Linked DNA regions of Homo sapiens: regions 1, 2, 4 and 5 are each linked to region 3. Evidence: fine-mapped expression QTL. A gene starts in region 3. Each other region holds a variant in brackets. All regions are shown on one strand. Distances are between the middles of the regions.

Region 1 (6,096 bases), 320 kb before region 3:
CACTCTGTTGCCCAGGCTGGAGTGCAGTGGTGCAATCTCAGCTCACTGCAACCTCCGCCTCCCGGGTTCAAGCGATTCTCCTTCCTCAGCCTCCCGAGTAGCTGGGACTACCGGCATGTGCCACCACGCCCAGCTATTTTTTTTTTTTTAATAGAGATGAGGTTTCACTATGTTGGTCAGGCTTATCTCGAACTCCTGACCTCAAATCATCGGCCTGCCTCGGCCTCCCACGGCCTCCCAAAGTGCTGGGATTACAGGCGTGAGCCACTGCACCTGCTCAAAGTTTGTTTTTAATGAGAGAAAAATACAATGTTTAGGGGCTTATGGGAGTAGTCCAGTAAGGAAAAAAATAATAATGCTTTAGGAAAAGGAGAAAAAATTACTGAGTGATTGACCGGGCGCAGTGGCTCACGCCTGTAATACCAGCACTTTGGAAGGCCGAGGCGGGCAGATCACGAGGTCAGGAGATCGAGACCATCCTGGCTAACACGGTGAAACCCCGTCTTTACTAAAAATACAAAAATTAGCCGGGCGTCGTGGCGGGCGCCTGTAGTCCCAGCTACTCGGAAGGCTGAGGCAGGAGAATGGCGTGAACCCGGAAGGCGGAGCTTGCAGTGAGCCGAGATAGCGCCACTGCACTCCAGCCTGGGCGACAGAGCGAGACTCAGTCTCAAAAAAAAAAAAAAAAAAAAAAAATTGTTGAGTGATGTCTTTGCATATGTGTAAAAAGGACTGGATTCAATACGTACGTGGAGGTATGGGCCTTAGGTGCATGGATTGTCATCTCTAGTAAGAGGCAGGAAAGCAGTGTATACAGCTGCAGATGCTGCTGTGGGGGACAGGTGTAGTGAAGGTCTGAAGAACTGCTCTTCTGAGTGCTTCAATTTTCTTAAGGAAGAAGAAGGAAGGAAGGAAGGAAGGAAGGAAGGAAGGAAATTATCTGAGAACAAGGAAGGAGAAAAAGTTTTGCTGAGGGTTTGAGGAGAGAGGAGAAGGTGGAAAATATTTGTTTAGGAAAATCGAACGGTAAATGGACCAGAGAAGTACAGCGAGATTGCCAGGCAGCAGTCAGGCCATTTGTTATTTATAGTCACAAATTTAAAGTGGGACTCATCGGTGAGAACTGTGTTTTCTTTCAGCCAGATGCTGTGCAGAGGAGGCGGAGAGTTAGATTTAAACAGGGTTGTTTTTTGCCAAGTTAATACAAAGTGAAAGAAAGGCAAAGGAATCAAGAGTCCATACGCAGAAATGAGGATAGTGTTTGTCACAGATTTTAAACTGGAAAAGAAGAGAACTGAAAGGCAGGTGAGGGAAAAGGGAAAGGTACTATGATCAATAGACTAGAAGTCCAGATAAGGTCAAAGTCTTATTGAAGTTGAACATTACAGGGAAAAGACAATAGATGAGAGAGTGAAATGGAGATAATGAAGGAGTAGCAATTATTGATCCTAAGAAATAAGATTACAATGTGGTGATAGGAATGGGTGGCTGAAGGAGGATAAGGGACAAAATCCTTGAAGGAATGGAATTTAAAGTGACTGAAAGATAAGGCTATTGGAAAAATCATATTTGAATATAAAGATATTACCAAGAATTAATACAGAAGATGGGTTTGAGAGAATGACTCTGAACTATGAAATGAAGATTTTTGATTGATATTTTTGTTCAATGGGCTAACGATACAAATACAATAGGCCAAGACAAATGTGTTGGCAAAGACATAGCCAAACACATTTTGACAAGATACTCTCAATTTCAGCTGGTCCTCATAGGTCTTTAAGTTTACACTGCAGTGAGAAGTAAAGGTTAATTTATCTGACACTAACCCCTGGCAGTCCTCCCAGAGTGAGAGTTGGCTTCCTGCAGGGTGGGAATATTTGGCAAACATCCTGGGAGAACACTGAGGTGGAGGAACAAGGCTGAAGGCCAAGGTCCCATGTATCATACACCTCAAACTGCAAGACCTGTGTCTGAGCGCCTGTTCATAGCAGGGAGGCTCTGTGACTGGGAGGAAGCCCAGACCGGGAATGCTGAGATGGCAGAAGAAGGGAAGTCCAACAAGGCTGGGACCCAGGTCCTCATCATACCAGAGGACTTGCTGGCACTTCCCTAAACATGCAGCTTATTAACCCACAGAGCTTGGACTGAACACTCTGCTAGATCATTTTGCGCTATCCCAGAGAATGATAGGCAAAGGAGGAACTGTCCACCAGCTCCTCTTCCTGCCTCTGTAAGCGTCTATGGATAAATATCATTCCAGGTCTAGTGTGTGTGGTGTCAGGCCACTCATCCTGTGTATGTTCCCTCAGCAGACATGATCAAACTCCCCTGGTTTCTTCTTCCTATTTTACATGTCAAGAACAAAAAGAAAATAAGATTTCATTATTATTATTATTATTATTTTTGTTAACCATATATTTGGTATGATGTATTATAATGACTTAAGCCTTTAACCCTTAATTAATCTGTAAGGGTTTTAGGAATTGTCCTGGGAAGTCCAGTAGAAGAGAGAAACTCAAAGCATTTTTTGCAATACCAGCAATGGGTTGCTAAGGCAGGGATGGCAAGCATAAAGCTCCTCATGTATCCACTGTACTCCCAGCGTCATGGAAAACATCAAAGCACCCTTTTCTGCTGACTCACCCCCCAACCCAGAAGATTTTTTGCACAGCACTCAAGAAAAACACAGTAGTTAGTTGGAATTAGCACCAGATACCCTCATGCCTGCTTTCTGAGATAAAGAATACATTGATACATTGATCATGTAACTGAAAGAGGATGCATCATCGGCCTCCATCACTGTCTGGGGGGCCAGTGCAATGCATCTAGAATTTGTATTTAAAAAGCAACAACAATTCAAAAAATCGAAGATTTATTTCATTTCCCCAATAAATGCAGACTCCAGTAGTATCTAACAGCCTTCTTGCTCCTACCTCATTGCCACCAGTCACATATTAGCAGTCTTGGCTGAAATACTAAAGATACTTAAATCTGAATATAATTCAAATCATAGTTTTGTAATATTTAATTCCACCGTGAAACTGAGCTACTATGAGATTACTGACAAAGAGAAGACACTATAGCGTAGTATTGTGTCATGGATTTTAAAGTCGGCCGGATGTGAATTTGTATCAATTTACCATCTCTTTGATCTTAAATAAGTTTCTTAATATCCCAAACCTCAGTTGCTTCTCTCTAGAATGGAGACAATAATACTAACATTGCTGAAGGTAATTTTAATCTACCATGATGATTTAACATTATATGTCAAGTATTTAGTACAGAGGCTGGGATAGAATTAGTGCCCAGTTAATGGTAGCTATTACTATAAATATATAAGTATCATACACTCAACTCACTGTATATCATGTGCAACTTTCCTATGCCTGGGGTAGACTTCTCCACTTACTATCATTCACCACACACACACAAAAATTCAGGCAGCTGCATCCACGTGGATTTCTGATCACGTGAGTCACTGTTAAAAACCTTGGCTGCCCTGACCAAAACTTTGATCGTTTTGCAAGCTGTTCCAGAAATGGGTCAGAGAGTTTTTTTTAAAATGTTTCTCTGTTAGGGAGAAAATAAAAGGATGGGGCTTTTATGTGTGAGTGTTTTGTTAGCTTCTCTGTTTCTTATCAATTTATGATCCTTTAGAAA[A/G]GAATAGACCAGGTGAATTGTAACCACAATCACACCCCTGTGATACACAGAGGTGTCATTAAACAATAAGGATCTTGTCCCAGCCAATTATCCTAAGATCAAAATAAAGAAGGGGGTTAGCACTATGTTCTCTCCAAAGCCAAAAATCTCTAAAGCCGCAGAGGAGAGAGCACCACTGCTGGAGAGGCGCTCCTTACCCAGAATGAAAACTGGGAGGAATCTTCTAGCTTCCTCCTTTTACCCACCTTCTGATCTCCTACCAGTCCTTTCTATTGGCCAAACATAGCAAAGCCACCTCACTCCTGCAGGTTGAGTCAGGCCCCAATCACACCAGCCTACCAGGAGCAGGGACGGGCAGGACAGGATCTGCGGGCCAAAAGGAAAACATCTGATAAGTAGGCCTTCCTTTCAGTTCCTTGAAAATGCCAAGCTCTTTCCAATGTCAGGATATTCATATATTCCATGTCCTCTTTCTATAATTCTTTTCCCACCACTATTCACCTCTTATCATTCTTCAAGTCCCAGTTTAAATATTACTTCCTCAAAAAGACCTTCCTTGACTACCTGTGTAAAATAGATCTCCTCTGTTATTCTTTCTTTAAAACCCTCTCTTCTTGCTAACCTTTATAATTATATACATATCTTCTAATTATCTGTTTAATGTCTACCTATCCAGGGGCTAGGAATATCTGTTTTGCTTTCTACTGCATTGTCAGAATCTAGCACAGTGCCTAGCCTATAAAGAGTGCTTAGCACTAAGTAAATAGTAACTATAATTATTACTATCTTTTATTTTTAATAATAGTACCATAATTGGATAATCAGTGAGAGATGTCAGCCCATTCTGAAATATATGTTAATTTCTTTCTGATGCTGTTGTTTTCTTCCTAATATTTAGTAAACACAAGTTGAATGTTTCAGTTCCATGAACACTTTTTAGACATTACCTAGAATACCAAATTTCCATATCTTGAGGCTTCAAAGACCATTAGGGAAAAATTGATACATTCCTTGAACTGTTAAAACAAAAACTATGTTGGCAAACTTGGAATAAACGAATTCTTTTCATCAAATAATCTGTAACTGAAAAGAGAAAAATGTGTACAGTAGAGCAATTTATCATCTGCAAAATCTCTTTATGCTTCACACATTCTGGTTTGGATCTTTTGATTTTTGTTCTTTAAATCTACTGAATGATAAATTTTCCTTGTCATTTCATAGGAGACCTTCATTATTTTTCTCCTACCATCAGTTTATTTTTTTCTCAGTAAAATTCAGCTCCCTTTTCTTTCTTAGCATTTTAACCTACCTGCTTCATGTGGGATAAAGAAATGCCCCATCTTTCACAGATAAAATAAATCTCCACATAAACGGTGACTGTTTTGTCTTTAGAGACTTTGTCTCCAAAATTTCCCACATGTGCCACAATCTTCTTAAGTTATCATACAGAGAACAACTCCTGCAATCGTGGGAAGTGAGGAGTTTGGAGGGCAACAGGTTGGCAATGGGGCGACTGAGGTGACTGTCTTGAGCAATCACCACGTATGGAGCTAAAGAGTCTACTTCCAGGTTCATTTCTGCCATTAGTCTAAGATTCATTTATTCATGAAACATTTATCAAGTGGCTACTGTGTGTTAGACGCTATGCTAGGGCTAGAGATGCATTACGGATAAGCTGTGGCTCCTGTTCTCAGGGAGCTCATTGTGTAGTATAGGGAAACAAGAAAGTAACAAATATTTACAATTTGTGATGTTTAATGCTTTAGGGAAAGTAACACAAAGCACTATGGGAAAATATGGAGGATCCCTAACCCAATTTTGGGCAGGTGTGAGGGTGGGGATGGTACAGCAAAGGCTTTCTGGAGAAAATGATGCTTGCGCTGAAAGATAAGTCTGGATTGCCCAGACAGACAATAGAATAATGTTCCAGAAAAGGCAAACAGTGCTTGCAAAAGTTCACAGCAATGTGTTATTGGTGAATTATAAGTAATTTAGGGCCAGGTTCAGGACAGGGAAGGAAGTGAAAAATGAACTGAAAAAATGAGCAGATGTTGAGAGGTTTTGCATCAGGTGAGAATTTGTTCTTTATCATCAGGTCCTTCTGCACTAACCCAGGTTAAAAGGATTGATGACAGACAGTGGAAAGAAGAGGGACTTTTGGAGTCAGACAACTTGAGTTTGAAACTTGGTCTTGCCACTAGTTTGTAATCTCGGTCAAAATTTCTTGGCCTCTCTAAGCCCTAGTTGCTTTAGCAATACAAAAGGTAATAATGTGCTCTAAAGGATTATCATTAGGGTTAAATAATACATGTAGCATCAGCACATTGCATGATGCCATGTTAAATCTCAACTATTATAAAACAAATTGCTGTAATCAAGAATATCCACACAGAGCTTTGAGTCACATACTTAAGTGAACACAAACTAGAATCTTGT
Region 2 (6,096 bases), 44 kb after region 3:
ACTGCAAGCTCCGCCTCCCGGGTTCACACCATTCTCCTGCCTCAGCCTCCCGAGTAGCTGGGACTACAGGCGCCCGCCACCACACCCGGCTAATTTTTTGTATTTTTAGTAGAGACGGGGTTTCACCGTGTTAGCCAGGATGGTCTCGATCTCCTGACCTCGTGATCCGCCCGCCTCAGCCTCCCAAAGTGCTGGGATTACAGGCGTGAGCCACCGCGCCCAGCCTGAGGTGGTGCTGAATTCTAATCCTCTATTCACATGGTTGGTTCTTCTGACAACCGGTCCCCATCCTCCAAGAGTCACCTCACTAGTATAAACTTGGGCATGGTTGAAAGGGGCTTACTATGAAAAAACGAAGATTCTCCTCTCACCCCGACTACTCAGGAAATTACAAGGGTTTTACAAGTTCTGTGCCAGGAACCGGGGCAGAGACCAAATACAAATTTCTTATTATGTCACCTATAGCAGTTGTGTTAACTTCAGTACAGTAAATTTAAGCTCATTATACCTCCTTCAGAACGGATACACATTCCCTATCCATCATCTCACTGTCCCATTCCCAAACGGTGGGGGTGTAGATAGAAGCGGGGGTGGTCTATCACAGCCCAGCAGCACTCAAGACAGGATTTTTCAGCGACTCTGGGAAGGCAGGCGTTCGGAGTTTGGCTCTTTTACCATGACATATGTGAGAGGAAACAGGAGTGCTGTTTGGAGGTGTGAAAAATGGCAGCTCCCTGGTGCCATCTACTCTTAGTACACTTTTTACTACTGCTAAATATGAAATTAAAATAGACTTACTGTAGGGACTCCCAGATGCTCTTGAAAAGATGAACTTTATATTTAAAGAAACCTTTCGATTTCGCTCAAATGCAGGAAATTAGGGAGAATAGTCCAGTTTTGACTTTCAAGAAAAGGGTGTTATTTTAAAAATCTAAGACAAAGATTAGAGGAGTCTTAGCTTTCCACTGGTTAAGTCCTGTTGAGGCAAGCTGTATTCCAGTGTTGAGTCTGCAGCGGCCGAAGCAGCCCCGAAGCAGCTGTGCCTGCCGTGGGCAGTCAGTCTCGGTGCGGCCATCCCTCTCTACACCCAGGAAGGATTCTGCAGAGGCGTCACTGGGGTGAATTCATGCCAAGGGTTGAGTCCATTTGTGGCCCTCCCATATAACCTTTCCACTCTTTGCCTCCCTTAACCTCGAGGCTCAGTCTCCTTCCAAAATGTGTAGATTTTGTTTTTACACTTTTTTATTCAGGTAAGTTCACAATTCTCCCTATATCATGTTTTCATTTTTTTTCTCAGTCTTTCCCTGGCTTATTCCTTCTCAGCAAAACCTAACTTATACCCCCTTAACGAGTATACTTTGAAACCCCCTTTTCATTGCCAGAAAACTTCTCTGTATTCTCAATCTTTTCATACAATTTCCTTTCTTCATCTTTGCCTTAACTGGCTTCTCCTTGAAGAGGGCTTGTCCCTTTGAAAATAACTATTCATTCTTCAATTCCCTTTGGATCTAAAGGCCAAAAGGAGTGATCAGTCTTTTTATCTTTTCCTCTTGTTGGAGAGCATAGAGTTTTTCTATACAGGTTTACTTTTTAGTACTTTGTTTTATACCTCTGGATAGTAGGTCACAGAGTACACGGAGCAGGCTTACACAAACACACACGTCAAATGAACAAATCCAGCCACACCACCTGTGCAGTCTCTTGAATTCACTTCCTCCACCACTGCCTGGATTCAGGCTCTCACCTGGCTTGTTGAAGGCATCCTCAACTAGTCTGTCAGCCTTGGTCTTTCTCTTGTCTGTCATCCACACCACGCTAGGTTTTGTTTTGCTTTGTTTAAGCCTCCTTTTGATCTTGTCACAGTCCTTGATTAAATTTTTCTGCCTTCTTCTTATCTATAGGATAAAGGCCATGCTCTTCCAATTCCAACTTAAACTTCTGCCATTGAATTATGTGCCAGTCAAGGAAAACCAAAGACAAAACAACAAGAAAACAACAACAAAATAGCAGACACGGTCCTTGCCTTCATGGAGCCTATAGTCTGTAGTCACAACAGTAGTATAATTACAAAGTAGGGTAGTGCTATGAAGGGGAAGCTGAGGATGCTGCTATGAGATATTACGGCATGATGGGGAATTTCAAAGACCTTTCTGTGTAAATTAAAATTAGGTCAAGACCAGAGGATGTTCAAGAATTAGCTAGGTAAAAAGCTAGGGGGAGAATATTTCAGAATGAGATACTACCATGTGCCAATGTTCTGCAGCAAAAAAGAGCTTGGTGGTTTTAGGTACTGGAAGGCCAGTGTGTCAGGAGAACTGTGAATGAGTGGGAGAGTGGAGCAAGAACTA[T/G]ACAGGGCTTAGATTTCTCTTAAAATGTAGTGAGCAGCCAGTCGTTGGTTTTAAGCAGAGTGGTAATATGGTCTGCTTTACATATTTTAACTTTTATTCCAGCTGCATCAGTCACCTCGAGTCATTCTGTTTCCCATACACCTTGATGCCTTTGCTCCTGTCTCTTTCTCCTCACCTGGGGACACCTTCACCTTTTTTACTTCTGGGAATTAGCACAGCACAGTAGTCCTAGAATGAACTCTAGAACCAAACGCTTTCTAGTGGCGTGGTCTTAGATATGTTACTTAAATCTATCTGTGCCTCAGTTTCCTTTGCAGAAGTGGGATATAATATCAAGGAGATGGCATGTGCCTAACCCACAATAATTCCTACAAAAGTGTTTGCTATTATTGTTTTTATTACTATTATTAAGATTCACCTCAAATGTTACTGTGTAACCTTCTCCCACCTTTTCAGGTATAATTCATTACTTCCTCTTCTGCAGTCCCACACTGCCATGGTTGCTTTTATCACACTGTTAAGAGAGTTGAATATGTACTTTTTTGTTGTTATAGATTATGAATTCCTTAAGGGCAGCAGTCATGTGACATCAAGCATCGGGATTTACATTTCTCCTCTATCACTGATTAATTGTACGACCTTGGATAAATTGTGCAGCTTCTCCATCTTGGTTTCCTCGCCTGTAAAATGAGGATAGCATTACCCATCTTAAGAGCTTCTGTTTTGGTTTTGTAAGAAACACATTTGCACCATAGCTAATACTTAGTAAACACATATGCTTTTCTTCCCTGCCTCTGTAGATTTCTAACAACTAAGTTAGAAACAAAGTTGGGCCTGGTTATTTACTGATTGGAGGCTGAGGTGTTGAATAAATAAATAATGAGGGTTTTATGAATGAGTAAAACAACAACACAAAAAAAAGGAAGAAAGAAGAAATTCTGTTGTTAAATATGTTGTACTCCTGATGCTAACAGATATATCCTAATTTCTAAGTTCACTCAAAGTGTGTTTATCCTGTAGCATATGTTTTTAAATCCAGTTTACCCTTAGCATTTTAAAGAAAGATAAACATAATGGCCTGAGCTCAAATTGAGTAGTGGTTTCTTCAGAACACAGTTTTAAAGCCATTAAAATAGAAGATGAAAAGCAACTGATTAGAAAAAGACTGCTCACTTACTTAGGGTTTAGTTTTCTTAACTATAAAATTTGATAGACTGATGGATGAAATGATCTCTAAAATTCCTTCAAACTCTCAAATTCTATGGTTTTATGATTCCCTGGTTCTGAAGACTTGTACAAAATTACAACAACTTAAGATGCTAGATAAAATCCTAATGGTGAAAGGGAGAGGCAATTAGTAAAGAAATAAATGGTTAACAGTCTAGAGCCATTTAATGGAGAGGGAGACAGCCCTGCTACCTCAACGGTAATTGAGTTTCATAATGATGACACTGAGTCATCAAAAAAGGTTAAATTTGGTTCAACCTACTCTCCTTAAAAGGCAAAGAAATGTGTAATGCATTTTTAGGAAGATTTTTACCAATAATATTTTAATATTTTATTAGTTTTTATTCAACTTAAAATTTAAGCTTTAATTATTTGGAAAATTCACTTTTGTAAATGTCTATTTCCTCTCCGTGAAGCAAGCCCATTTCAGGGGCTACAGAGATCTTCCTGCCGCCACAGAATAGCTTATCACTCTGGTATCATGGTTGTTACTCTTTTTGTAATTTAGTGTCCTAAATTTTACACATAAAAATGCTACCATCTCAAGCTGGGAACAGTGGCATATACCTGTAGTCCCCACTACTTGGGAGGCTGAGATGGGAGGATCATTTGAGTCCAGGAGTTTAAGGCTAGCCTGGGCAGCATAGGGAGACCCTGTCTAAAAAAAGAAAAAAGAAAGTGGTAGATGAACTGAAGAGGTTGAAATAGATAATACTGTGCGTGTATGTCATGCTAAGGGGTTTAAATTTGTCTTAAGGGCAGTGGAGGAGTGACAGTCACATTTAAGTTTTAGAAAGATGAGTCTAGTGGCAGCATGGAGGGTAGATTGATAGAAGCCAAAGCTGGAGGATCCATGAACAATTTGGAGACTGTTGTACCAGTCTAGACAAGGGATGGTAGGAGCTTGGACAAAGGTAGAATTAGTGGAGGAAGAAAAGGAGGAATGGACATAGGACTTGAAGGAAGTGGAATCTGCAGATTTAGAGAAGTACATGATGCTTGATAGGGGTTGAGGTTAAGAACTGGATGGAATTGGATCCAGTTCTGGCTTTCTGTCCTGGGTAACTGTTTTGGAGGCACCATTAACTGGAATGTTCTGGGAAAGCCTTTGCTTTTCTGATGTGAGTGCTGCTGCCTCCTGCTTTCTGATGCCACAACAGCAAAAGGCATCATGCAGCTTTGAGGTGATAAACAGGAGAGTGGACATCTACACATTAGTAAGAGTGGAGCAAAAAGAGCCAGCTTCCTGGCACTCTTGTGGAATAGCTGCCCCTGCCCTGGCCATGCTACCTCTGGATTTCTTGTTATGTGTGACAGACAACACTTACATGCTTAGAAATAGGCATCTGAATATGTTTATAACCAATAGAGTGAAAAATGATTGGTCAGTTGTAGTTTATTTTCCGGACGTCTTTGCATTCTAAAAACAGATTGAGCTCTAAAAACAGATGCAAGCTCAAAAAAAGATTTATTTTAATATATTTATATGTTGAATTTAATTGTACCATTGGCTTCTAAGTTTTTCTTTTGGCTTTTTTATAGAGCAAATTACTAAAGAAAAAACTTTGTTTTTACTAGCAGACCTCTTAGTATACAAATGGGGAAAATGTGCATATAAAGATGGGACCTAAGATTTGGAACAAATTCCAGAGGAAAATTTTGTTGACATTGGAATGAATTACTAAATACTGTGTTTGATATTTGGTAAAAATTACTTATTTTTGTCTTCTACTCTGAGAAGTATTTCTTACAGTCTTATCATTAGAGAATAGACTGGTTCTAAGGCTATTTTTTACAGGAACATATTGGCTTTTTCTTTAGACATTAAACCCAATGATATATCCTGTATCTTAAAAAACAAAACAGTAAATCTGGAATCTTACCGAAACCAAGTATTTTCCATATACATTTGTGTCTGTCTCCATATTAAGAGAGATTACATCAGAGTTGAAGGCTTTCTTTGGTCCCAAAATCTGTACTTTTTAAAAAAAGCAGTGATTGCTGTGGCTTCTCCAGTATGCTGTGGAATATATATGGAAGTTATTCCAGTGTTTTTTCTCAGTCTGACATCCAAATGGCTGTACATTACTTAAAATCTACATTTGAGAGTCTGTTTTCTAATGGTTAATCAAAGTGTTTTCATGCTTGCAAATTCATCTTCTAACAGCTTTTATCATCGTGGCATTAAAGTTAAGAATTTGATGTTATTAAATCACTTTTCATTTAAGATATTTTATGCAGCCTTCAAACAAAGCCCTGAGGGAATTTGGGAGGAAAAATACAAGAACCGTAGGACAAGTAGGTCATAGAGTGCAGCATCATCAGATGGTGGAATGCAGGGCAGGGCTGTGCGTCAGGAGACTCCACTCCATTTCTATCCATGGCTCTCTTCGTGACTTAGTGATTGACCTTGGGCTACTTATCAAAGAGCTCTTGCCTCAGTTTCATCTTAGATAAAATGGGGCTAGAAGTCACCGGAAACACATGTCAAATGTATTGTGGAGTTCACAGACTCATAGAC
Region 3 (6,096 bases):
GGAACTCAATTTCCTATGACATTAACAAAATCTATAATTATAGCTGCTGAATCAAGAAGAAAATATAAAATGGTTTTATATGGTTTTCTTTGTTGGATCACTCATACTTTCATCATGTGTAATATCTAGTAAAAAAGGTCTAAACTCTAGAACGTAAATTTTAATAGAAAAAGTGATTATACATTATTTTCCTATGTATTTTCGCTTTTCAAGTGTTTAGTGGCAGTTATCAAAAAACTTCATAATGTGCCAATTTTTGAAAAAATTTTCCCACCTGCTGTAAATTCCCTTCTATTCCTAGGATACAAAAGCCTGCCTTAAAATTATTTTTAGAATCTTTTATTAAAAAGTATATATACATATGATATTGTATACTGCAACTTTAGCATCAGCCACAGGACTTTTTGAATATTGATCATGAGAACAAATTATAAGTAACATGGCTTTGATGCCCTTGTTTAGACAGGCTTTATTTTTCTTTTAAATTGAACTTTATCAAGACCTGGCCATGATCCTACTGGAAAAACTACTGCAGACGATGTACATCAAATAAGTCAGTCTGGTTCTTAATATTACATTTTTAATCTTAATTGGTGGAACACTATTCAAAGAAAGGACTAGCTGCTTTTTCTGTGCTACTTCCACCTTTCACAGGGAACAGAGATTTTAAGTGACCTCAGATCTTAGCATTTCTGAGCTTTCCTGGAGTTCTTACTACCATTCTGACTTAGTAAGTGGTGACCTGTATTCTGAAACTGAGGGGCTGACATATCCAATCTTCCTTGGGAATGTGATAAAGCAGCTCCGCTTCAAGTAAGTAAAACTAATAAACACTTCCAGTGTTTCATTAAGAATAAAATAGAAATTGATTTAATTTGTGAAGTCTTAATACGTTTGACTTTCAATAAAGATGTGAAGATAAAAGTGTTCAGAGAAAAGCTAAATTAAAAACAGGAAACAGGAGAAAAAAATGTCTAGAGAACAGAAGACACAAGTTTCTTTAAATACTTTAAGAATAATTGCCAAGAAAGAAATTGACTAAATGCAGAACTGAAAGAAAATGAATTTTAAAACTTCAAGAATTTCAGTTAAAATAAGATAGAATTTTCTGATTTTGTTCCCTAGACTTAGACCACCGTACTTCAGTTTTGAGGCAGAGGTTTCATTCACAGAAGACTTTGAGCTCTGGAATCATTGAAAAACGAACCATATTCATTAAATTATTGGTAGTCCCCCAACTGCTGTGCATTAATAGGAATTAATTCTGCCTCATTTCAGTTCCTCAACATACTGAGCTAGAATAATTGTATCTTGTTATTTGTTCATCATTGCTTCAGATCTTAGACATAGCTTTTCCTTTCTTGGAAAAGAAGATTATAACAATAGAAAAAAAAGATTATTTCCTATGTTTTTTATTTTTCCTGCAATAGGAAAAAGATTCAGATTGAAGATTTGTGATTTTCGGTTATGCTATTTCAATTATTAAACTCACTTTTAAGCAATGTAATCACAATTGTCTTTATGCTAACAGGAAAAGAATACAATTCTTACATTTAAATTAAAAAAAGAAAATCTCAAAACCTGAAAGGTATTAGAGAACAAAGCATCTTCCTAATTTGGACGTTTTTCAAACTCTACATCTTCTTAATTTATTGAGAAAAAGACACTTAGGATCTTCCTGTAATTAATTTGCCCATTGCTGGGAAATACTTGTTACCTGTCATAATGTAGTGCTTCAAAATAACGTTATCAGAACTGCAGTCGAAAGGTACTCAATACCAGTTAAGTAACATTTGAAGTCCAGGAAAGAGAAGTCAAGAATTCCATGATTCCATGTTTCCGTATTCATCAGGAACATAATTAAGAGTTTATTCATTTGAGACTTACAAGCAAACAAAAAAAGTTTATGTAGTTTGCAAGGAAGTTAATATTCTGATTTTATTCTTCGAAATGTACATATAAATAGTTCTCAAGTTTGATTTTATGATAAAAGTGTAGTTTGGGAAAAGGTCATTCTAACTTTAAAAAGGTCGCGAAAACAATAGAGGCTGAAGCATTGTTAGCGTAATTGGGGGAGGAGGGAGCAACGGCAAGAATTAAGAGCAGAACACAGGTCTAGAAACAGTACCTGTCCCAAAGTGGGTCTGCCCGGCGCTGTCGCTTTAAGCAGCGCTCCTGGAAACCTCATCTACAAATCCTGGGGCGGGTCAGGGGTGGCAAGACTCCTAAGGAGGGAAACGACAGAAATGATTCTGTTCTTGCGAGCCCCAAAGCAAGAGTACTTTTCTGATGGGTAAAGTGGTATTTCTTTCCAGGCTGCAAAGCTCTCCACCTTTTTCCTTTGGTCTCAGTCAGCCCCAGCCATGGGGGCAAATCAAGTTGGGGTCAACTCGGCTGCCAGAGACCTAAGTTGCCACAAGGGTCACCGACGACCTAAGCAGCAAGTTTCCTTCGTCCAGCCTCCTGCCCCCACGCACATTGCCTCCACAGCAAACTCCACCTGACTCAGCTTGTTTAACTCCAATCCTGCAGCCCTCCCGGCCTCAGCAGGGTCAGGGGGCGCGGGTCTGCGCCAAGACGGTTAGGAGGCCCAAGTCCTGGGACTGGACGGTTACTGCGCTCCCTTGGGCGCAGCCGCTGGCGGCGTGGGCGCGGCTGGGTCACGCCTCCGGCACCACCGCGCGCCAGCCCGCCCGTGGCATGGGAACCTGCGATTCAGTCGTCCCCGGGGACCTCCCAGCGCACACCGCTAGCCTGGGGCTTTCACCTCGATCCGCCCGGCCTGGGCGGCTCGTGTCCTCCCACACCGCCACCCGTGCCCGCTTCCCGGGGTGCGCCCGGAGCCTGGCCGCTCTCCCTGCAGGTGACCAGTACTCGTTTGGAGTTCAAGATTCCCGCCGCTCCACTTGAACTCCACCCTCCCCTCTTATTATTATTATTATTTTAACTTCCCTCCGGTTAAGCTAAATTGATCTTAATCTTTCATCTCGGACGTCCCTCTAAGGGGAGTGAGCGAAGATTCCGATTGCAAGTCGCCGCTGTCGCTTGTGCCCGTCAGCCCCTCGCCCAAAGGAGACGCCCCCGGGCGGGGCGGGGCGGAGCGGGGCGGGGCGGAAGGGCCCGGGTCTGCTGCGGACGGGGCGGGGCGGAGCCTCCTCCTGCACGGGGGAGCCCCCGGGCTCGCCCCAGCTCAGACACTCCTAGCCTTGGGGCAGCTGCCGGGCGAGTCAGCGGAGTAGCGGCCAGCGGGCGATGGAGACAGAGAGACACCCGACGAGAGGAGGCGGGGTGGGGGAGGCGGGGAGAGTGCGGGGGCGGAGGCTGGCAGGGGGCGCTGGAAGCTGGAGCGGTCCGTGCGCTCCCCGCGCCCGAGGGTGCAGGAGGCTCTGAAGCGGCTGCTGCACCGCGGGGCCCAGGCGGCGGCTGGGGGGCTGGGGGGCGCTGCCGCCGCCGCCGCCGGGGGCGTCGCTGGCCTCGGCCCCTTTGTTCTCGCGCGCTCCCCCTCGCCGCCCACTCCCCTGCTGTCGCGCGGCGGCGGCGGTGGCGGCGGCGGCTCCTCCCGCCCGAGGCAGTCGGGCTCGGCGCCGGGGGCGGGAGGGGGCGGGGGGAGCACGCCAGCCGCCGAGAGTGGGGGGCGATGGCGAAGCTCCGGGTGGCTTACGAGTACACGGAAGCCGAGGACAAGAGCATCCGGCTCGGCTTGTTTCTCATCATCTCCGGCGTCGTGTCGCTCTTCATCTTCGGCTTCTGCTGGCTGAGTCCCGCGCTGCAGGATCTGCAAGCCACGGAGGCCAATTGCACGGTGCTGTCGGTGCAGCAGATCGGCGAGGTGTTCGAGTGCACCTTCACCTGTGGCGCCGACTGCAGGGGCACCTCGCAGTACCCCTGCGTCCAGGTCTACGTGAACAACTCTGAGTCCAACTCTAGGGCGCTGCTGCACAGCGACGAGCACCAGCTCCTGACCAACCCCAAGGTAAGAACGCCCCGCGCACCCAGGGGCTCCCCGCGAGGGAGGTTTGGAGGCAGCGTCGGTGTTAGACTCCGCGCGGGGAGGGTTCGGCGTGTGCTCGCATTGCTAGGAGGAGACCAGGTGGCGCAGGCTGTGCTCAAACCAGGAATGACTACATCAGGGAGCCCCAGGGCTCCGGTCTTTTCAGGTGGGTTTACGCGCGGCGACCAGTGGTGCCCAGAGGCTTACTTTAAAACCTGTCTTGCCTGGTCTCAGATTTTGAGGCCTCGACCCAGTCCGGGTCCTGCGCCTACCGGACTGGGTTTGGAGAAGTGCAAGGAGCCAAGAAAGTTAACTTTTCCTCCATTTAAAGCCAGTGGTTAGCGGGGATCCACCTACTCCAGCTCACGGTCAAGGTCCGAGCTTCAGCTGGTCTCATCTAGAACTCAGATGGAATGACCTTCCTTGAAAGGTCGAGGGGACTCTCGAAAGTTGTGAGAGAGTTCCTCACCTTTTCGCTCTACATAGGCATTTTCAACTTGGGGTTCAAAGATAAGCTTTTGTGGCTTGACAAACGACCCGGAATCAAATGTGGAATATTGCGGGTCCATTTTGGGAAGTACAGAGGGCTCCTAGTTTTCATGAAATAGATTCTCAAAAGAGTCTACAGGGAGCCTAGTTACCCTTTGTGTTTAGGGACAGTCAGGAGTCGTCTGGAGAACAGTAAAACTTGCTGAAAATAGAAAACCTTCAGTGAAATGTACCTAATATGACTTCTCTGACAACTTCTATTGGTCTCGAAAGCAAGCAAGAAGAAAAAGAAAAAGAAAAAAAAAAAAGATAAAACCTGGTTAGGACTCCCGGGATGGAGAGCAGAGAGAGGAAGTCTCAGAAAACTGTTCCCAATGGAGAAAAATAACTTATAAAAAGCAGTGTCCTTAGCCTGTGAACTAATTGAGCTTTGTAGTGCACCTGGTTCTGGTTCCGTTTCTACTTCCCTTGATCTTTTCTGCTCTCCTTGTTGCTTAACTATCAAAGGTATGTATCTTTTTAAAAGTTACTGACATTTTTCCTTTTTTTGAGGGATCAAGCAGAAAAACAGTCCAAAAGGGAATGCATCTTGTGTTCACAGGAAAACTTTCTGTTAACTCTAACAAGATATATTTATATTAATCCAAAAGAAAAAAATTCTACATTAATATTATAATAGTATTTAAAACAGCTTACCGTCACTCTGCAATAAAACTTGTGGTCTTACCTCCTGAACAGTAAATTCTTGAATTTGAGACATTTAGAAAATATTTCTTTTTAAAAATATGAATGACTCCTCTCAAAAAAAAAATGCTCCTGTCGACAAATGAATATTGATTTACCTTAAAAAATATCAATAATACATAAGCAGTAAATATAGGACTAAGAATATAGAATTTGGAGTATAATGTTAAAGATCTTGAAGAGGTGATAACGTCTCAAAGACAAATGTTGTAACTTGATCCTCTTAATGCTCAGGAATTTAAAAAGAAATCTCAGGGTTTTAGAAACATTTTTTTTTTTAGAATTAAATCAATAATGTCAAAGATGAGTGCCAACCAGTAGTAATGATTTAGAAATTATATGGCAGTTCATCATTTAGAAGTTGTTATAGTTGGTGAAACGTTGCTAATTATTTTAAGATAGTGGTTCAAGCACTAATAAATTTCATATCTATATATACATATATATGCACACACACATTAATAAATGGCTAATATCTAATCAAGACAAGGACAAATTATAATTTATTACAAAAAGACTGCTTCACAATTTTCAGGCAGTTTGAAGTATCTGGCAGAAAAAGTAAATTGAAATCATTGGGACGTTGATTTTTAAATTACCTAGAAGCAATCCCAATGCTTTATGTAATACTAAAATTTCTCCTCTCTCTTTTCTTTATCTCTCTCTCCCCTGAAAATAATCATTTTTTTTCCAGTGCCAGTTCAGATCTTGGCAACAGTTGTTTTGAAAAAGTACCTGAACAAAATACATTTTATAAAGTAAAGTATTCAGGAACTGACAGAACTGGAGAAGAATATATTTATGTTACAGAAGTCATGGACAACATCCTATTCATTTTAGTCAAGGTTTTCTCAGCCAAACCAATTTATATC
Region 4 (6,096 bases), 180 kb after region 3:
GAAGTGCAGGAATATACAAGCTATTTCTTATTAAAGGCATTCAGAGCTTGAGATTGTCCATATCGAGCTATATTATATTTCTTTAGCCTCATTTCATTTTTGGAGAAAAATGCAGAAATGGCTAGAGGAAGACAGTATTACAAATTTTGACACAAAACTTACAGGGCAATATATTGTTGTATCGATTTTTCCCTCTATTCTCCGGCAAGAGTGCAATGTCACATGACTGGTTTCGGCCCACGTCTTTTAACTCCTGTTAGGTCAAATATGAGTTTGTAAGTGGAGAATATGAAATAGAATAAAGCAAATCATACAGTCCTGGAGATAACATAATAACATGAAAATATATACACTAGCTATTGTTTATGAATGCCTAGTACTCAACATGCATTAGCCCTGATCCCCACAACAGCCCCACAAGGGAGGTGGTGGTCTCACTATTTTACAGGTGAGGCTCAGTCAGGATAACTGATGTGCCCCAGGTCACCCAAGTGGCAAACCTGAGAATCAGTTCCAAAAGCTACGTGCTTTTTGCGAAACCACGGCATCTTCCAGCCAAGCAAATGGCCAGGCTGAATATCTGACAGCTTTAGGTCTGCATTTGAGATTTGTTAATTCTTCCTTACTATCTGATCCAGGTAGCCCTTGGTTTGCTGTGTTATTCTGGAGCTCAAGCTGGCCTCTAAGATTAGATGGTATATTCTATTCAGGGCATAGTTTAGGCATAAAAGAGTGCTCAGCTGAGATTCTAAGCAGCCTCCTAACTTCTGAGCTCAATCAGCCTATGATGACACAGTAAACATTAGGAAGGAAATTCTGCTAAGAACTAGGGATGCTGAAGCTTCATTCTGCCTGAGTTGTACCTCGTATTCCTTGGATAGAAGGTAGTTGGAGTCAGCCTGTAGCTTCATGAAATGCCCTTCAAACTGATTTATTTTTATTGGACTGTAATTAAAAATGAAACAAACAGAAAAGAGTTACTGCAGAAAAGGGAAAGTGCCATAACTATTCTGACTCATATTTCAAAGGCAGATAATATAGTAATTAATGTGTTCTCTCTCTTACCAAGAAGTTTTCCGGTTACTGTGAAGAGAAGCCAAAAGAGGAAGACTTTGTTAGCAAATTTCACATAATACCATCTTTCAACAAATTATACGAAGGCAAATGTGGTGCTTACCCTTTCTGGCCCAGGTTTAAGTGGACAGATAATGGTCGATCCCTACGAATGCTCAGACGGGCAGAGGGTCTTTCTCGACCATGGCTGAAACATAAGGGAGATAACTTTTATTCTGATTATGATACTTGGCTTGAACAAATTTTTCCATTTATGGTAAGGCTGTGGATGTTTGTGCAAATATGGATTTTTCAGTATTCATACAGATTTGCACTCAGCCAACATCTCTGAGGGAGGGAAAGGAAAGAGAATAAAGTAGATCATTCCCACCCAGAAACGGATCTCTGCAAAAACTGAAGATTTGTCTCCTGGTTTTTGGCTACAGGTTATAATCACTTCCCACATTCTCAATAAAACTTTGCTTTAAAAAAATCCAGTAAATTTCAGATGCCAGACACGACTTCAATAAAGAGGAACATGTGCCAAATTAAGAAAAAAAATTCACTAAGAGAAGAAGGCACGACACTTGGGGCCACATGCTATTTGGTTCTTTTTGGTCCCTTCTTAAATTAGGATGGCAGATATGAACTACAAAATGGTGATGTCAACCACACTTTTCAGGATATTTCAGAAAAGCACTTGGGCATGCAATTTGCAAACATCTCTGTCTTCATGAGGATATGAACCACACACACACACAAAATATTTTTTTCCTGTGCAAAAGGAGTCACTTCATCTTTAAATAAAGCTATAGATGGCCCCTCAGTCCTTTGGTAAGGGCTGAATTCATCAATGGGATATAAAAGAGCTGAGAAAAGTGAGTCATGGCTTTAGAGTTTGACTTGTTTTTATTGAGAAAACAGTGACAATTTAACCTGGAAAAATTAAATTATTTTCCCTTCTTAGTTTTCAGCCTAAAGGGAATTTTCAGTTGCATTTTTAAAGTTGTGGGTCCAATCACCAAAAGGATCTTTGTACTTACCTCACTTTCTGTCTGCAGATCAATAAGGCAACAACAGCCACTAGCATGCCAATTAAAAACAGACCAGCACTCACACCTTCAATAGCTCCAAACAAGGGCTCTACAATAATCCAGATAGAAACAACAAACGCAGGTGGGAAAATTAGTGCTAGGGAACCAGTAAGAAAGCTATTGAAGCCATATCTCCCAAGTAATGTTATTACAAATAGAATTCAAGTGATGCCCACGATGAGGCATTTACTTTCCAAAGGCTCTGAGTATGCACCTAAGAAGATGATGAAAGGCTGGCTCCCACCCTGTAGCAGTGAGGCCAGGTGTCACTGCATACTTTTGAAGTTAATGTTGCATAGCTTATAGAGGAATTTTGGACTTTGCACTTGTATATAAAGCTTGGGGCACCTGAGATAAAGGCCATAAGTTTGCCACCAAGATAAAAATGCCATTTCATTTATATAAAACATGTTACACAGCATCTGGGGCTTTGGAAAATCCAGTGGATTGCTTGGAGCTATTCTAAGAAGTCTTATTTTTATTATCTGGTATGGTAACGCTACTGGGAGTTTATGAAGAGGTAAGAGTGGCCTCATTTTTAAAATAGCTTTATTGAAATATCATTCATATAGCATGCAACTCACCCATCTAAGTTGTACAATTCAGTGGTCTTTAGTATAGTCAAAGTTTTGCAAATGTCACCACAATCAATTTTAAAACATTTTCATCACCCTCAAAAGAAACCGCGTACCTATTAGCAGTCAGTCCCACTCCTCCCTCCCCGCGATCCCTGGCAACCACTAATCTACTTTCTGTGTCTGTGGATTTGCCTATTCTGGATGTTTCATAGAAATGAAATCATAAATCTGTGATCTTTTGGGACTGGCTCCTTTCATTTAGCATAATGTTTTCAAGGTTCATCCATGTTATAGCATATACCAAGATTTCATTCCTTTTTATGGTTGAATAATCGTCCATTGTATGGATATATCACATTTTGTTTATCC[A/G]TTGATGGACATTTAAATTGCTTCTACTTTTTGGCGATTATGAATAATGCTGCTATGAACATTCATGTACAAGTTTCTATGTGGACATATGTTTTCATTTCTCCTGGGTATATACTGAGGAGTGAAATTGCTGGGTCGTATGGTAACTCTAGGTTTAATATTTCTATAAACTGTTTTTCAAAGCAGTGACACCATTTTACATTCTCATAAGCAGTGTATGGAAGGTTCTGATTTCTTCATATCCTCACTAACTCTTGTTACTGTCTTTTTGATTATAGCCATGCTACTGGGTGTGAAGTGGTATCTTCTTGTGATTTTGATTTGCATTTCCCTAATGATTCATGATGTTGAGCATCTTTTCATGTGCTTATTAGTCAACTGTATATCTTCTTTGGAGACATGTCTATTCAGAGCCTTTGCCCATTTAAATATTGTGTAATTTGGCTGGGCACGGTGGCTCATACCTGTAATCCCAGCATTTTGGGAGGCTGAGGCAGGCAGATCACGAAGCCAGGAGTTCGAGACCAGCCTGGCCAACATGGTGAAACCTTGTCTCTACTAAAAATACAAAAATTAGCCGGGTGTGGTGGCGCATGCCTGTAGTCCCAGCTACTGGGGAGGCTGAGGCAGGAGAATTGCTTGAATTTGGGAGGTGGAGGTTGCATTGAGCCAAGGTGGCATCACCGCACTACAGCCTGGGTGACAGAGCAAGACTCCGTCTTGAAAAAAAAAAAATATATATATATATATGGCCTGGCGTGGTGGCTTACGCCTGTAATCCCAGCACTTTGGGAGGCCGAGACAGGTGGATCACAAGGTCAGGAGATCGAGAACATCCTGGCCAACACGTGAAACCCTGTCTCTACTAAAAATATAAAAAAATTAGCCAGGCGTGGTGGCGGGCGCCTGTAGTCCCTGCTACTTAGGAGGCTGAGGCAGGAGAATGGCGTGAACCTGGGAGGCGGAGCTTGCAGCGAGCCGAGATCGCACCACTGCACTCCAGCCTGGGCGACAGAGCGAGACTTTCTCAAAAAAAAGGAAAAAAAAAAAGGAAAAAAATATATATATTACACTATATATATAGTGTAATTTGTGTTTTTATTATTAAATTGTGAGGTAAGAGTTCTTTATATGCTATTCAGCCCTTATCAGATATGTGATTTGGAAAATAAATATTTTCTTCCTATTCTGTAGGTTGTCTTTTTACTTTGCTGATAGTGTCCTTTGAAGCACAAGTTTTTAATTTTGATTAAATCCAGAGTATCCATTTTTTCTTTTGTAGCTTATGCTTTTGGTGTCCTATCTAAAAAGCTATTTTCTAATCCAAGGTTACAAAGATTTACACCTATGTTTTCTTGTAAAAGTGTTACTGTGTTATCCCTTAAATTTAGGTCTATGAAGTGGCCCATTTTTGAAGTTGCATTTTAAGATCTTAGATTTGTTTGTTCCATGTTGCTTTTCAAGACTCATCAAATCAACACAATCATCTTTCCTTGAATGTAGTTAATATCCTTTTTTGAATATACGTTTACTGTCTTCCTGTACTGGACTACATGCAATTTTTGTCATGTAACAGTATTTCAAAAAGGAAAGAATTGTGTTTACAAAGTCCCTACATTAAATTATAAGTAAAGACATCTAAATCCTCTTAACTGTGTTCTCATCCCCCTTTAGCTTGAAATTGGGAGATTATCCCTATATTTGGCATAAATAGATTGGAATGTTTGTGAGGCTGAGTCATCGTTTGTCATGCAGCACGAGAGACAGTTTTAGCTGTAAAGAACTTCCCAGACCTAGAGATCAAGCATTGCAGAACACGGATTACAGGAAAAGGCTACGCAGACGATGGTGTTGGGAGGGAAGGTGATGAAATGATGCTATTCTCAGCCTGGTGGAAGTATTCAGAGACAGGGCAGTGCAGAGGTTGTACGCTTGGGCAGAAAGTGCCAGAATTTCAGCTGCACCATCTTGGGCAAATTACTTAATCTCTTGGTGCCTCATGTCCTCATCTTTAAGATGGGGATGATAATAGCATCTAGCTCAAAAGACTGTCATGAGAATTGGACAAGTTATCCCATGTAAAATGCTTAAAACTATGTCTCCATAGAGAAGGTGAACAGTAAATACTAGCCACTATTATTACTCAGGCTTTCCCTCTAACACACTAGAGAAGTCTCTTTCAGAAATTGTTATGCACAGTCTTTTATATTAATGGTTTTTAGTACTACAAAGTCAACACATAATAAGCAAAAGGAAGAAAAATCACCTGTATTTCCATTACTTTGAGATACACATCATTAATACTTTGGTGTTTTTTTCTTTTAGTCTTTTTTTCCTGAGCATTTCTGTGTATATGCATATATACATTCTCACTTTTAACTGAAAGTGTTTTGTAGTAACTTATATTTTGGCCTGTGAAAACTCTTGATTTTAATGGTTTTCACTCACTATTTAGAAAATAATTCATTTTTAATAGAAAAAAATACTGTACTTCCACCTTCTTTTTAGATTAACCCCCTTTCAATCCATTCTTCTAGAGAGGTTGTACAATCCCTTTGATCCACATCAATTTTTGGTCACATAAAGATTAAGTTCCAAATGAAAATAAATGTTCCCCCCACCATCAGCCAATATCTCCCCATTAGAGGCTCTTGTAGGTGACATGGCAGTTGGTAGAACATGATGTAAAGGTTAGCCTTACCTGATTCAGTAGTGATGGGTAAAGAAAAAAATGTGTCTGAATAGAGTGGCTTTGTGAATTCCTTCAGGTCCTCATCAAAGAGCTGTGTAAAAGCTCGAATGCTGATTCTGAAAAGAAAACCGATTTATTTAAATATAAATTAGTTGTTGAACACAGTAGCTGAAAAATGTGTTCAAGGAGAAATAGGGCGGGTTCCTGGTCAGTGGGTAGCAGGGTAGAATATGAGTTATGGAATCGGATAGACCTGGGTTCATGCATTCATTCATCAATTTATTCATAAATATTTATTGAGCCCCTGCCA
Region 5 (6,096 bases), 25 kb after region 3:
CCCATTTTCTTTATCCATTCATCTGTTGATGGACACTTAGGTCACTTCCAAATCTTACCTATTGAAAACAGTGCTGCAACAAATACAGGAGTGCAGACGTTTCTTTGATATACTGATTTCTTTTCTTTTGGGTATATACCCAGCAGTGGGATTGCTGAATCGGATGGTAGCTAAATTTTTAGTTTTTTGAGTAACTACATTGTTCTCCAGTTTAGTTACTCAAAACTGTTCTCCAAACTGTTCTCCCTAGTGGTTGTACTAATTTACACTCCCACCAAGAGTGTACAAGGATTCCCTTTTCTCTACATCCTTGCCAGCATTTGTTATTGTCTGTCTTTTGAATAAAAGCCATTTTAACTGGGGTGAGATGATATCTCATTGTAGTTTTGATTTGCATTTCTCTGATGATCAGTGATATTGAGTACCTTTTCATATGCCTGTTTGCCATTTGTATGTCTTGATTATTAATTTTTAATTAGAATAGCAGTGTGACTTCAGATGTGCCTCAGTTCCCTCACCTGTAAAATGAGAATTATAATAGAGCCTGTCTCCTTGGGTTATGAGGAGTAATGAGTTAATATATGGAAAGCTCCTAGGATAGTTCCTTGCATATGGTAAGCCTTCAGTGAATGTTTGCTCTTGTTATTATGAACATAGTTTTGAAAATCAAATTGCACTGTACTTTTATTTGAGGGTAAGGAGTAGTACTCCACTGCTCCAAACCCTTGTGCCACCCAGAGATAACTGGTTTTAACTATTTTTAGGGCTTTTTTTTTTTTCTGGTTTTTACCTCTGTGTTTCTAAACAATAGGTTTTCTGATGTATGCAGTTGAGATACTGTTGACCACCTATGATGGATTATATGGACTTAGCTTTCTTGCACCACACCATCCTACCCCATTTTCCTCTCTTTATTCTTTAAATAAATATGATTCTATCATAATTTTTGGATAAATTAATATTGAGTGCTCAACTTACTTTAACTATGTAAAGTACTGTTCACTTCTATAACTTATTTTCCTTGAGGTAAGAATCATCTCCCTTTTTTATTTTCTTACTTTCCTGTACCTTTCCTGTGTACCTTTCTCTTATTTTTCCAAAATTCTCCTGCAGAATTGTAAAACCCATTTGTATACTGTTTGTCATATGACCATTCTCAATAGGTAGTCATTTAGTTCCACATTTCTCTCATTCTTTTTAAAAATTTCTTAGCCAGGCATGGTGGCTCACGCCTGGGATCCCAGCACTTTGGGAGGCTGAGGCAGGCAGATCCCTTGAGCCCAGGAGTTTGGGACCAGCCTGGGCAACATATTGAGAATCTGTCTCTACAAAAAATACAAAAATTAGCTGGGCATGGTAGCATGTGCCTGTAGTCCCAGCTACTTGGGGGGCTAAGGCAGAAGGATCACTTGAGCCTGGGAGGTTGAGGCTGCAGTGAGCCAAGATCACACCACTGCACTTTAGCCTGGGTGACAGAGTGAGACCCTGTGTCAAAAAAATAAGATCAAATAAAAATTTCGTGGGACACCCTTGCTGGGCCCCATCTGCCTACTTCTCATACTGAACTGGATGCACCTTAGGCCTGCTGCATCTTTCTTGTGTTGAGTACCTTGTTTCCTTGATCCCATGCCTTCCTCTTTCTTAATTTATTTCTTTGTTTTGTTGGAGTACATCCTCAAATAGCTTTCCGAGAATGGGTGAATGGGAAATAGAATTTGTAGGCCCATGTATAGATCAGAGTTCTATTTCTGAGGATTTAACACACTCTAATCATGTTACTTGAAACAAGTTTACTATTTGTTAACCAGTGTCCATAAAATATTGTAGGACTGTACCTCCATCATTTCTTTCAAGAGAAATAAACAATCAGATGTTCTGCCCAGAGTTATGCTCAATGAGCTCAAATTTGCTCATCCATCAAAACTGATCATAGGCTTTAAGAACCTCCTGGCACACTGCAGAGTATTCCTTGGGGTCTGTATATCCCAGTATGAGGAAAACCAACCCAGATTAACAACTGCATTTTAGCACAAGATGGGGCAGGTGGTGGTATAAAAAGAGAAGGTGCCTTGGGAGTGTGAGCCATTTGCTTCTGAAATTTATTTGCCAACAAGTCCTGCTTCAGCCCTGTAAATCCCAACTTTATGTTTTAGTGAGTCAAAATAGCCCAGCATACAGTGGGTAAAATGGTAAATTGATGTTGCATGTTCAGGCATTCAGACCCTACTGGGACCCAGTAACAAACCACTTGTTTCTCAAAAGGAGAATAGTCACTTGCCAAAGAAAGCATGGGTTTGCTTTATACCATCAGGGCTCTCTCTGGGCTCCATATATCCGCTGATCTGTCATAGACTCTTGTTTGTTATTGAAGCCACTGAGCCATAGAGATGAATTGAGACAGCTTCCTGCTCTGTAGCCTTGAGCAGGTTTTCCTGCTCTGATTGCTACTGAAAGCTGGCAGGTTCTGGGTTACTCAGTATATTGATCAGAGAAGCAATCCCAAATGTCAGTATATGTTTCCTCCAAAATGTGAAGACGCTATACTTTCAGGATCTGTAGGAACAATCGTGAAGAGAGTTCATGGACTCCCTGGGCCTATTGTGACACTAACTTGGACCAAAACTTCATTTTCCCCTGACCCCCATGAGCTCTCATTCTAAGCACAGGTGTACTTAGAGTCCCCAGGGATTAGCATTAGCGTAGAGCCAGTGTTCAATACTATTCTGAATATCTGCCCTTTCTGCTCTATACTACTCTGCTACATGTCGGCATGTTCTGCTGGGAAAGGCTAGATTTTCAGTAGGTAGGACTTGAGGTTCTACCACAAGGGCTTTAAGTATAAACCAGCCCCCTCACCCTTCCTCTAAGGAGCTTTGGGCCTGGGATTGGCTGAGGAGTCCTACCTTACATCACAGTGACTCATAGACTTCATTTCATCAAACCTCAAGTGTTTTTATACTTTCAGGTATGTAAATAAAGAAGAACCTTAGAAGGTTATCTATTTATTTTAATCTTAGATGTCCTGTGATCTCAGCCACTGTCAAAGATCCCTGTGGCTCAAGTCATTTTTCATATGTTCACACATTCTTTTATTTTTTATTTATTATTATTTTTTTTTAGAGAAAGGGTCTTGCTCTGTCACCCAGGCTGGAGTGCAGTGGCACA[A/G]TCATAGCTCACTGTAACCTCAAACTCCAGGGCTCAAGCTATCCTCACCTCTCAATCTCCTGACTAACTATGACTAAAGACATATACCAGTACACCCAGCTAATTAAAAAAATATGTTCTGTAGACAGAGGGTCTTGCTATGTTGCCCTGGCTAGTCTCGAACTCCTGGGTTCAAGCAGTCCCCCTGCCTTGGCCTCCGAAGGCTCTAGGATTACAGGTGTGAGCCACTGCGCCTGGCCTATGTTCACAAATTCTGTGGGTCAGAAATTTATAAAGGACACAGAGAAGAATATAGTCTGAGGTCCTCTCCACATAGGCCTTTCATGTGATCTCTCATTATGGGCCAGTTTGGGTTTCCTTGTAGAATACTGTCTGGAGACCAAGGATGAGCATTCTCGAGAGAGATGCAAGCAGGTGCTTTATCACCTTTTCTGATCTAACCTTGAAGTCACACTGAATCATTGCTGTAATCAATGGCTCATTTATGTGCTAAGGAAGAGAAGCTAGACCTCCACCTCTCAATTGAGGAGTGCCAACATCACATTGTAAGAGTATGTGAAATGGGATGTATATTAATGCAGCTCTCTTTAGAAAACATATTCTGCTACAAATAGGAAGCACCAGTTTTTTTTATCATCACCATACTGGTTCTAGAGGACTTACAATAGACAGGGCTTGTTGATCCCCTTCATGCAGAAATGATGGTTGTAATATTTCATTGTATATATATCCATACATACACACATTGAATTTGTGTACCTTACAGTACACAATATAGCTACAAATAATGCCATCAATGAAGCCATCTGAATGTGTGCATGAACATTTAAGAAAGTTTTATTTCATTTCAGTGTCATAAGAGTATTGACCATCTCCATTAGAGAAATGCAAATCAAAACCACAATGAGATACCATCTCACACCAGTTAGAATGGCAGTCATTAAAAAGTCAGGAAATAACAGATGCTGGAGAGGATGTGGAGAAATAGGAATGCTTTTACACTGTTGGTGGGAGTGTACATTAGTTCAACCATTGTGGAAGACAATGTGGTGATTCCTCAAGGATCTAGAACCAGAAATACCATTTGACCCAGCAAATGGTATACTGGGTATACTGGGTGTATACCCAAAGGATTATAAATCATTCTATAAAGACACATGCACACGTTTGTTTATTGCAGCACTGTTCACAATAGCAAAAACTTGGAACCAACCTAAATGCCCATCAATGATAGACTGGATAAAGAAAATGTGGCACGTATACACCATGGAATACTAATGCAGCCATAAAAAAAGATGAGTTCATGTCCTTTGCAGGGACATGGATGAAGCTGGAAACCATCATTCTCAGCAAACTAACACAGGAACAGAAAACCAAACACTGCATGTTCTCACTCATAAGTGGAAGTTGAAAAATGAGAACATAGGGACATAGGGAGGGCAACATCACACACTGGGGCCTGTTGGGGAGTGGGAAACTCGGGGAGAAATAGCATTAGGAGAAATACCTACTATAGATGAGGGGTTGATGGGTGCAGCAAACCACCATGGCACATGTATGTCTATGTAACAAACCTGCATGTTCTGCACATGTATCCCATAAAATATAATAAAAAAATAATAAAATTTAAAGAAAGAGTATTGGCCATCTCCTCAGGATTTTAAATTCTGATCAGGAGTTATTAAACAAATGTTTATAGGCCCTGTCATGTTTGTTATAATTATTAATAACTATTGAACTTCTTCCAGATTAAAATTTCTTGTTTTGGTGTGATTGCTTCTATTTGGATTCAACTTCTATTTTTGGCAAAGACTGTGTGTTTTTATTTTATTTTATTTATTTTATTTTATTTTTGAGAAAGAGTCTCACTCTGTCGCCCAGACTGGAGTGCAGTGGCGCGATCTCGGCTCACTACAACCTCTGCCTCCCGGGTTCAAGCGATTCTCCTGCCTCAGCCTCCTAAGTAGCTGGGATTACAGGCTCCTGCCACCATGCCTAGCTAATTTTTGTTGTTTTAGTAGAGAAGGAGTTTCACCATCTTGGCCAGCCTGATCTTGAACTCCTGACCTTGTGACCCACCCGCCTTGGCCCCCCAAAGTGCTGGGATTACAGGTGTGAGCCACCACGCCCCGCCGTGTTTTTATTTTCTAACTCTAAAACTAAATGAACTATTTTGAAGATGGAATGCCATGCCGAACTTTTCAGTCTTAATAATATAACCAACCTTAGCAGTCTGCCTGAATGCAGAAGTTAAGTGAATATTATTAAATTCCAAAAATCCAGATATCATATCAACATATGATAGTAAATTCTAACTAAAAAAACTATGCATTGGAGCGTGGGTGTATTCTCTGGGAGGTAGTGAGCAACTTTTTACAGAAACATTTAAGGAGAGAGGAACAATTCTTCAGTGAATAGTAGGTCAGATAATTTGGGCATTTTCCAACGCCATCTCCTATGCCCCTTGTCCTCCAAGGCACATTAGATGACTCAGTCTTTCTGGAACATCCATACACAGCCTCTGTACATTCCATTTCTTCTTGGGATGTCACCTTCCCAGCCCATTCTCTGACAAGCAAATTCCTGTTCAGCCTTAAAGACACAAATCAAGTCATCTCTTCTGTGAAGCCTTCTCTTATACTCTGGAGGCCAAAATATTCATGTCTTCTTTTGTAGTCACAAAGCACTTTGTAAATATGCTACTATTACTACACTGCTTGCTTCGGGGGAGGTGGAGAGGGAGAGAGAGGGAGAAGGGAGTGAGTAATAGCTAATCTTTGTTTCCTATGCAGTACTCAGCAATCAAGAATAGTTTATTGCATAAATTATCAATTCTAAAAATCTGTCATTCCAAGGGCAGGAGAGCTGTTAATAATGCAGATTCCTAGTCTTAATCACACTTTGAGGAGGGTGGATCTTTTTGACAAGCAG

The links. PIP is the estimated chance that this variant, and not a neighbour inherited with it, causes the effect. A credible set is the group of variants that fine-mapping cannot tell apart.
Region 1: its variant is the best candidate, but not a certain one, in a credible set for the expression of KCNMB4 in esophagus mucosa (GTEx, PIP 0.70).
Region 2: its variant is the best candidate, but not a certain one, in a credible set for the expression of KCNMB4 in whole blood (INTERVAL, PIP 0.55).
Region 4: its variant is the best candidate, but not a certain one, in a credible set for the expression of KCNMB4 in esophagus muscle (GTEx, PIP 0.69).
Region 5: its variant is the best candidate, but not a certain one, in a credible set for the expression of KCNMB4 in fibroblasts (GTEx, PIP 0.76).

Annotation. Positions count from the first base shown.
Region 1 is chr12:70,041,739-70,047,834 of GRCh38, forward strand. No RefSeq gene overlaps it. Among named protein-coding and RNA genes, the nearest start is that of LINC02821, 140 kb to the right of the region's middle. The variant A/G (reference allele first, on the strand shown) is at 3,661.
Region 2 is chr12:70,407,542-70,413,637 of GRCh38, forward strand. All of the region lies in intron 2 of KCNMB4 (potassium calcium-activated channel subfamily M regulatory beta subunit 4), which reads left to right. Among named protein-coding and RNA genes, the nearest start is that of KCNMB4, 44 kb to the left of the region's middle. The variant T/G (reference allele first, on the strand shown) is at 2,349.
Region 3 is chr12:70,363,098-70,369,193 of GRCh38, forward strand. It overlaps KCNMB4 (potassium calcium-activated channel subfamily M regulatory beta subunit 4), which reads left to right and starts at 3,193. Exons shown (of 3, transcript NM_014505.6): 1 at 3,193-3,973. The coding sequence starts at 3,638. RefSeq lists a silencer at 3,009-3,248.
Region 4 is chr12:70,538,762-70,544,857 of GRCh38, forward strand. It overlaps PTPRB (protein tyrosine phosphatase receptor type B), which reads right to left. Exons shown (of 34, transcript NM_001109754.4): 22 at 5,796-5,902; 23 at 2,097-2,196; 24 at 1,178-1,261; 25 at 1,066-1,083; 26 at 864-945; 27 at 163-253. The region is part of intron 6 of PTPRB-AS1 (PTPRB antisense RNA 1); the gene reads left to right. Among named protein-coding and RNA genes, the nearest start is that of PTPRB-AS1, 74 kb to the left of the region's middle. The variant A/G (reference allele first, on the strand shown) is at 3,095.
Region 5 is chr12:70,388,202-70,394,297 of GRCh38, forward strand. All of the region lies in intron 1 of KCNMB4 (potassium calcium-activated channel subfamily M regulatory beta subunit 4), which reads left to right. Among named protein-coding and RNA genes, the nearest start is that of KCNMB4, 25 kb to the left of the region's middle. The variant A/G (reference allele first, on the strand shown) is at 3,166.